Homo sapiens: one gene and its partner. The protein of the gene in region 2 purifies or fractionates together with the protein of the main gene of each other region. This does not show direct contact. Each region holds a gene or a part of one and is shown on either strand. Other genes may lie near its edges.

Evidence for each region.
Region 1: the proteins of TSPAN11 (region 2) and ITGA7 purify together in Homo sapiens (affinity purification with mass spectrometry; 2 studies listed by BioGRID and IntAct, with this or other methods). This does not show direct contact.

What each region holds. Positions count from the first base shown.
Region 1 is NC_000012.12:55,697,864-55,701,669, reverse strand, and holds part of ITGA7 (integrin alpha-7 isoform 2 precursor), read left to right. Parts: intron 1-249; exon of another isoform or gene 250-253; coding exon of another isoform or gene 254-291; exon of another isoform or gene 292-320; coding exon of another isoform or gene 321-344; intron 345-515; coding exon 516-771; intron 772-783; exon of another isoform or gene 784-1,104; intron 1,105-1,276; coding exon of another isoform or gene 1,277-1,408; exon of another isoform or gene 1,409-1,643; coding exon of another isoform or gene 1,644-1,680; coding exon 1,681-1,800; intron 1,801-2,752; coding exon 2,753-2,960; intron 2,961-3,093; coding exon 3,094-3,287; intron 3,288-3,643; coding exon 3,644-3,732; intron 3,733-3,806. UniProt on the Homo sapiens protein: Integrin alpha-7/beta-1 is the primary laminin receptor on skeletal myoblasts and adult myofibers.
Region 2 is NC_000012.12:30,957,660-30,961,465, reverse strand, and holds part of TSPAN11 (tetraspanin-11), read right to left. Parts: intron 1-3,806.

The DNA of each region.
Region 1 (3,806 bases), about 25 Mb from region 2:
GGTCGAGGCTGCAGTGAGCCATGATTGTGCCACTGCACTCCAGCCTGGGTGACAGAGTGAGACCTTGCTTCAAAAAAAAAAAAAAAGTAATACTTGGAGAGTGAAGCGGACAGGAAGTTCTTTGCAGATGAGATGGTGACACTTACAAAGGTCCAGGGACAGGGCCAAGCTTGGCATTTTGGAGGACTGTGACATGATCAGGGAGACACACATCCTATGTGGTGGCTTAATTGTGTCTTTTGGCTCCAGGCAGAATGTGGAACAAGGAGATCTCCATTTGAGGGCAAGGAAGTGGGTGCAGACAGGTTGCTGGGTTATGCATGGACCTGTGTAACACTGGCAGGGTAATGGTGCTTGAGTGGTGCCGGCATAGGGGTGTGTGTGTATGTGTGCATGTGCATGTGCATGTGAGCACACATGTATCAGTATCTGCCAAATCTCTGCATATGGGCAGCATGCCTCAAGCAGGTCCCTGGCCCACAGAGTGAAATGATCCCCATCCCTTCCTCCCCCAGACCTGTGCACACCGATATGAGGCAAGGCAGCGAGTGGACCAGATCCTGGAGACGCGGGATATGATTGGTCGCTGCTTTGTGCTCAGCCAGGACCTGGCCATCCGGGATGAGTTGGATGGTGGGGAATGGAAGTTCTGTGAGGGACGCCCCCAAGGCCATGAACAATTTGGGTTCTGCCAGCAGGGCACAGCTGCCGCCTTCTCCCCTGATAGCCACTACCTCCTCTTTGGGGCCCCAGGAACCTATAATTGGAAGGGTGAGTCACTCCTCGGGAAGGGGAGAAGGGGACCAAAACCTCCTCTTACCTCAGAGACAGGGTTGGGGATGGCACATGGCCAAGCATGACCACATGTGCACTGCTGTATGGCCCCAGGGCACTGCCATGCCTTCCACCCCATTGAGCTAGTGCACACATGAATGGGGGGTGCCTCCTTTCCCTCGCACGGCCAAGTGTTCCTCAACATGCTGGCATGGGCCCCAAGTGCACGCTGGGCCTGCAGCTGGGGCCTGCATGCTCCAACACACTAGCCCACACCTCATCACTGCCATTCCCGTCTCCGCACGCTGCTGCTGGCTGAGCTGACACTCGGTGAGTGTGATGCCACATCTGGGGGACCCCAGGAAGCCTGGGTTGGGGACAGGGTGGGGAGAGGGCTAGAAAGAAGAGGCAGGGCTTCCCCGTGTGCCTGTCTAACTCAGTGTCCGGCCTGAGGGGTGTTCCTTGCGCCCTGCCCTGGGCACTAACAGGTCTGTCCTTGCAGGCACGGCCAGGGTGGAGCTCTGTGCACAGGGCTCAGCGGACCTGGCACACCTGGACGACGGTCCCTACGAGGCGGGGGGAGAGAAGGAGCAGGACCCCCGCCTCATCCCGGTCCCTGCCAACAGCTACTTTGGTAGGGACCTCTCCCCGGCCCAGAACTGCTCTAACCCTCTGCTCCTCTCTCTTGTCCTCTCTCTCCATGCTCCCATCCTTCTGTCTCTGTTTCTGTCTCTCACCTTGTCTCTCTCTGTCTTTCTGTCTCTGGCTGTGATCTCTCTGGTCTCTTTTTCTCTCTCCACCTCTTCTTCTTCCACCATTTTCTGGCCTTTCTGTGGCTCTGTCTCCCTACTCTGTGGCCCCTACTCTGGATGTCCCCTCCCTGGTGTCTCACCCCACCCCCCACAGGGTTGCTTTTTGTGACCAACATTGATAGCTCAGACCCCGACCAGCTGGTGTATAAAACTTTGGACCCTGCTGACCGGCTCCCAGGACCAGCCGGAGACTTGGCCCTCAATAGCTACTTAGGTTTGTAAGCTCCCACCTCCTGGACTCTAGGGGCATGGCCCAGCCTCCCCTCCTTCCCCAGGGAACTCGACCTTTGGTGCCTTATAATCTCCTCCTCCCCCAACACACACCCAGGGAGACATACATTGGGCCCAAATTGCAGAGAAGAGCTGGGTCCAATGATCAGGCCTAAGAGGAGGAGGCCCCCAGGGTGGTGGCCTCTGGGGCTGTGAGCCAGGGGTCTCCATGGAGGAAGATTCAGGTGGAATGAGAGGGCCAGGGCTGAGGATATTTTGGGAAGGACAGTCCTGTCTTCTAGGGGGACTTTCCCTGAGGGGATGGATGGTGGGCACATATTGAAGAAAGGGCTAATGTTGTTGGTAAGTCCCTCTCGTTGTCTCATCTGCATTCCTCTGCAGAGGAGGAGGAAACCAGGCCTGGGAGATGTTTGGGTGAAGCAGGCGCTCTCTCACTCCCCCTTGTCTCCCCCTCATCCATGTGAAGACTTCCCCTCCCTGCCAGGATGAGGGAGTTGGGGGAAAGAGGTGCACTGGGTGGGATTCGGGCCTGAGAGGGACCTCTAGCTCTTCTAGCTCCCTGGGTGTGGGCAGGGTGAGGCCACTGTGCTCAGCCTCCTACCTGGGCTCCTGGCCTTCTCAGCCATCACCTTTCTCTCTCTTGCCCAGTCCCTGAGGCTGACCTCACTGCACTTTTTGTGCCAAGCTTGTCTCTGGGCCTGGTGGGTGTGGGAGGCTGCCAGGCCCTGTGGGGAGGAAGAGCTATCCAGCTGTGGTGCTGATGACTTGGGGGGACCTATCTTTTGGCTCTTAACCTAGGGGAGGGGGCAGGGTGCAGGGGAGCTGTGACTTGGCTCTTAACCTGTAGGGAGGGGGCAGGGGCTGGGGGAGCTGTGACACACCCCAGCTTCTGAGTCTTGGGGTGAAGACTTAGGGGTAAGTCACCCTTCCCCCAGGCTTCTCTATTGACTCGGGGAAAGGTCTGGTGCGTGCAGAAGAGCTGAGCTTTGTGGCTGGAGCCCCCCGCGCCAACCACAAGGGTGCTGTGGTCATCCTGCGCAAGGACAGCGCCAGTCGCCTGGTGCCCGAGGTTATGCTGTCTGGGGAGCGCCTGACCTCCGGCTTTGGCTACTCACTGGCTGTGGCTGACCTCAACAGTGATGGGTGAGTGGGTAGAGGGCCGTGCCACCTGAGGGAGGCTGGGTCTAGTAGCCCCAGTCTGGCTGAGGCCACTTAGCCTCCTGCTGGCTCCTCTGGCCAGGGAGGACCCACACTGAATGTTTCCCTCTCTCCATAGCTGGCCAGACCTGATAGTGGGTGCCCCCTACTTCTTTGAGCGCCAAGAAGAGCTGGGGGGTGCTGTGTATGTGTACTTGAACCAGGGGGGTCACTGGGCTGGGATCTCCCCTCTCCGGCTCTGCGGCTCCCCTGACTCCATGTTCGGGATCAGCCTGGCTGTCCTGGGGGACCTCAACCAAGATGGCTTTCCAGGTGTGACGGGGAACTGGAAAGGCTCAGGGAGGGAGGGGCCACAGGAGGGATGGGGAAGCCCCTCAGAGGTCAGGGTGTGGTCTTCTGAGGACTCAGGGAGAGAGGGTCCCTGAGCTTATGTCTGAGCTGTACCATTTACCAGCTTTCTGACCTTGGCAAGTTCCTAACCTTTTTGCGTTAGTAATATCTGCAGGGAGTGGCCAAGAGGATTAAAGATGATGTATGTAGAGTGCCTGGGATTTTGTAGCCTCTCAATAAAATAGAAAACATACCTGAGTGACTGGGGGGAGTTGAGGCCTGGATCTTGTCTGCAAGGCCCCCAGCCAGCGTGACTGCCTTTTCCCTGTGCCCTGCAGATATTGCAGTGGGTGCCCCCTTTGATGGTGATGGGAAAGTCTTCATCTACCATGGGAGCAGCCTGGGGGTTGTCGCCAAACCTTCACAGGTGAGGGGAGTCGCTGGGATGAGGGAATGGGTGTGGGTGGAATCAGCAGAGGCATCAGGGGAGGCAGAGGCCTG
Region 2 (3,806 bases):
GCAGCCTGGGTTCTAGTTCTGACTGTGTCCCTGACTAACCACATGATTGTGGGACAGATATGCAGCCCCTCTAAGCCTCAGTTTCTTCATCTGTAAACTGGGGGCACTGGATGGGACCATATCTGAGGTCCCTTCCATATGGTTAAACTGTCCCTGCTGGTACCAGAAGTCAAGCTTCTGTCAAAGAACCTCCGGCAAGATGGTTCTGAATTAATGGCTCATGGCTGTCACTCAAGCCGCCTGGAAACTGCCTAAGTCAGCAGAAAGCAGCAGAAGAGGCAGGAAGAGGGACTTGATGGAGTGGGGAGAGATCTGACCCCAGTGAACTATTCAACAACCATTGGCATACAGTTGATTCAACAGTATTTGGCTCTTTACAGAATCTAGCGTGGTTTTCCATGAGGGTAATAACTACATTTTTCTTTTTTTTTTTTTTCCTCGCTCTGTCGCCTAGTCTGGAGTACAGTGGTGCGATCTTGGCTCACTGCAACCTCCACCTCCCAGGTTCAAGCAATTCTCCCACCTTAGCCTTCTGAGTAGCTGGGATTACAGGTGTGCACCACCACGCCTGGCTAATTTTTGTATCCTTAGTAGAAAGGGGGTTTCATCAAGTTGGTCAGGCTGGTCTTGAACTCTTGACCTCAGGTGATCCACCTGCCTCGGCCTCCCAAAGTGCTGGGATTACAGGTGTGAGCCAGCGCGCCTGGGCAATAACTACATTTTTCAAAGCCATAGCCTGTGGCCGACTAGCCAGCAAGCCCTGCAGAGGGTGAAGCCAGGCGACAAGGATGCAAGCTGGCCAGGAGGGGCGGAGCAGGTCACCCCTGTTGTGTAATTTTAGGAACTTTATGTTCATAGGAAAGAAACATGATGGGGTGAAGCATTAACCTGAGTGGCTGCACATGCCTGAGGGGCCGAGAGAAATAAGGCAGCAGACCTGGAGGAAAGCAGGCAGAGGGTATAAAAGTAAATGTAGGCGTTTTTCTTTGTCTCGCTACCATAGGGCTTCTGCAATGAAGGAAGGAAAGGGATGGGGCAGGAGCCAGGAACACTTGAATCCCAATAAGGAAGGATCCTCTGCGGAGGGGAGTTCTCCACCCTCAGTGAGGAGGAGCCCATGGCTCAGGATGCGGGAAATGCACAGGGTGATGGGAAGTGTACAGGGTGATAGTAGACTTTGTGTTTACTGGCCACCTGCTACATGCCAAGCCCCACACTGGACTGAAAAGTCTCTGGGTTGGACAGGAGCTCACCCATGGGAACCACACTCATCATCTGTGCTCCTCCTCCCTGCTCAGTCTCATACATGGCGCCGCGCCATCACCCACCCACCCACCCACCCACAGACACCACAGGGTCACTGTAGGCTCCTCCTTCTCTCAATGACAACCATGTGCCAATTCCCCTCTGCCCTCAAACCTGTCTCCATCTCCCCGCCACACTGTCCACCTCGGTTCCCCACCTCAGTTGGCTCCCGGCTCCTGGCTCCTGTTCCGCCCACAGGCTGATCCCCCAAGGCACCCCCGGCTGAGAAGTCCCCACCAGCTCCCATGCCCCAGGCACCAAGCCCAAAAACTCTTTTGCATGGCCTCGGTGCTCTTACTGTCTGGCCTTAACCTGACTTTTTGGCATCATCTTCTGGTACTTTCTTCCCCCCACACCTCGGTTTTTTTTTTTTTTTTTTTTGAGACAGAGTCTCACTCGGTCGCGCAGCCTGGAGCACAGTGGCGTGATCTCGGCTCACTGCAACCTCCGCCTCCCAGGTTCAAGCGATTCTCCTGCCTCAGTCTCCTGAGTAGCTAGGATTACAGGCACGCGCCACCACGCCTGGCTAATTTTTGTATTTTTTTTCCTGGGTTTTAATCACTTTGAACTAAGTAGTTGCTTCTTCTTGAAAACAGTGTGGTTACCTAGTAACTCAGGCACTATTAGCAGAGTGGTAAACAGCGTGAACTCCAGGGCGTGGCGCGGTGTCCGAGTCCAAGCCTTCTGTTTACTGGCTGTGTGGATTTGGATAAGCAACACAGCCTCTGTGGGCCTCAGGGAGGCTCTCTCTTTTTCCTGCCCACCTTTCACGCATTGTTCTCTCTGCCCTTTCTCTTCCGTTGAACTCCTACACACCCTCTAAGGCCCATTTTGAGATTTTGAGTGTGGCACCTGCTCTGTCCTGGGCAGGTGAGTTCATCCCTCTCCTGCATGCCTGTGGTGCTGCTCACCTCACAGCAGCCCTTGACACTTGGGGCAGGGAAAGTCCCCTCACTCCCCTCAGAACGCGGCCCAGCACACGGCCTGGTACCCGGGAGCCGCCCCAGTGAGTGTGAGACTCAGTGGATGAGGCTCTGTAGAGGGCTGTGGAAATGGCATCTGCTCCCCTACCTGCCTCTGTCTGCCGAGCTTCTGGGGCAACAGCTAGTGTTTCTCTTTCCTGCTTTATGGCTGTTTTGATTTTTAAAGGGGCAGTCCACAAAGTCCCAGTAGTCCCAGAGAGGAATAGGCTTTTTCTCTGGGTCATTAAGAAGAGGCTCCTGGAAAGGCTGGGGTTGCGCCCTCGGTATCTTAAGGTCAGACTGATGCTTGGTTACTCTCATACTTTCTTTCAACCAATACCCACTGTGCACCTGCTACAATGATGCCACGCTCTTGGGCCATCAAGGGACCCATGCCTGACACTGCCACTGCCCCTGCCCCTGCCCCAGGATCACTTGTAGGACACTGGGTTGAAAGACCTGACTTAGTAACCACCAGAGTGACTTCTGCTATGACGGAGAAGTGAATGGGTCTAGTTTGGGGAGCAAACACAGCATGGGGGCTCAGGGAGAGGACTGGGAGACCAGGTCTGAACAAGACTCAGTTTCTTTTACAGAATGGCTTCCCATTCCCACATCAGAAGAGTCAGCTGAACCTTAGACTGCAGCCCCGAGAGAGCACAGCTGAGCCCTATACCCACATGCAGGCAGGGTGGACGGCACCCCAGTCCCACGCCCAAAATGCCGAGCTCTCCAGGAGGGCACATGAAAGCGTGCATCAGGTGCTGCTGCTCACCCTCCTCATGAATGACCTTCTCTGAGTGCCAGGCATGCATTTCTCCCCAGCTCTGCCCATGCTCCTGCTGCCTTGGTTTATGGAATCTTCAAGGATAGGCTTGTTATGCTAAGGGCTATTTCCCACTTTGAGGCATCCTTGTTTTTGGCTTTCTGGCTTTAAAGAGCCCTTGATAAAATAAATCAGAACACTACCTCCTCTGCTGTCTTCCCCAGTCCCATCTACCCCTATAACAAGAGCAAAATCTCATGAGTCTTACTGAGGGGTGGAGCTGGGAGGGAACATGAGATCACCTGTTCATCTTCCAAACCCAGCTCAGAGCCCAGAGGAAACCTTCCTTGGAGCTGTCCCTGCCCCCCTCTCCCAGCAAATCATTCTGTCCTCTGTACCAACTCCAGGTCTTGCACGTTTCCATAGTTACACTCATACTCTATTTATTTTATTGGTTACCTTGTGTGCCTCCTCTTTTAGCCTCTTGATTAAACTTCGTTCATCTTAATATCCCTAGCAGAGGGCTACACATGTAAGGAAGGAAGGAAGGAAGGAGGGAGGGAGGGAGGGAAGGAAGGAAGGAAGGAAGGAAGGAGGGAGGGAGGGAGGGAAGGAGGGAAGGAAGGAAGGAGGGAAGGAAGGAGGGAGGGAGGGAGGGAAGGAAGGAAGGAAGGAAGGAAGGAGGGAGGGAGGGAGGGAAGGAGGGAAGGAAGGAAGGAAGGAAGGAGGGAGGGAGGGAGGGAGGCAGGACAGGAGGATGGAAGGAAGCAAGG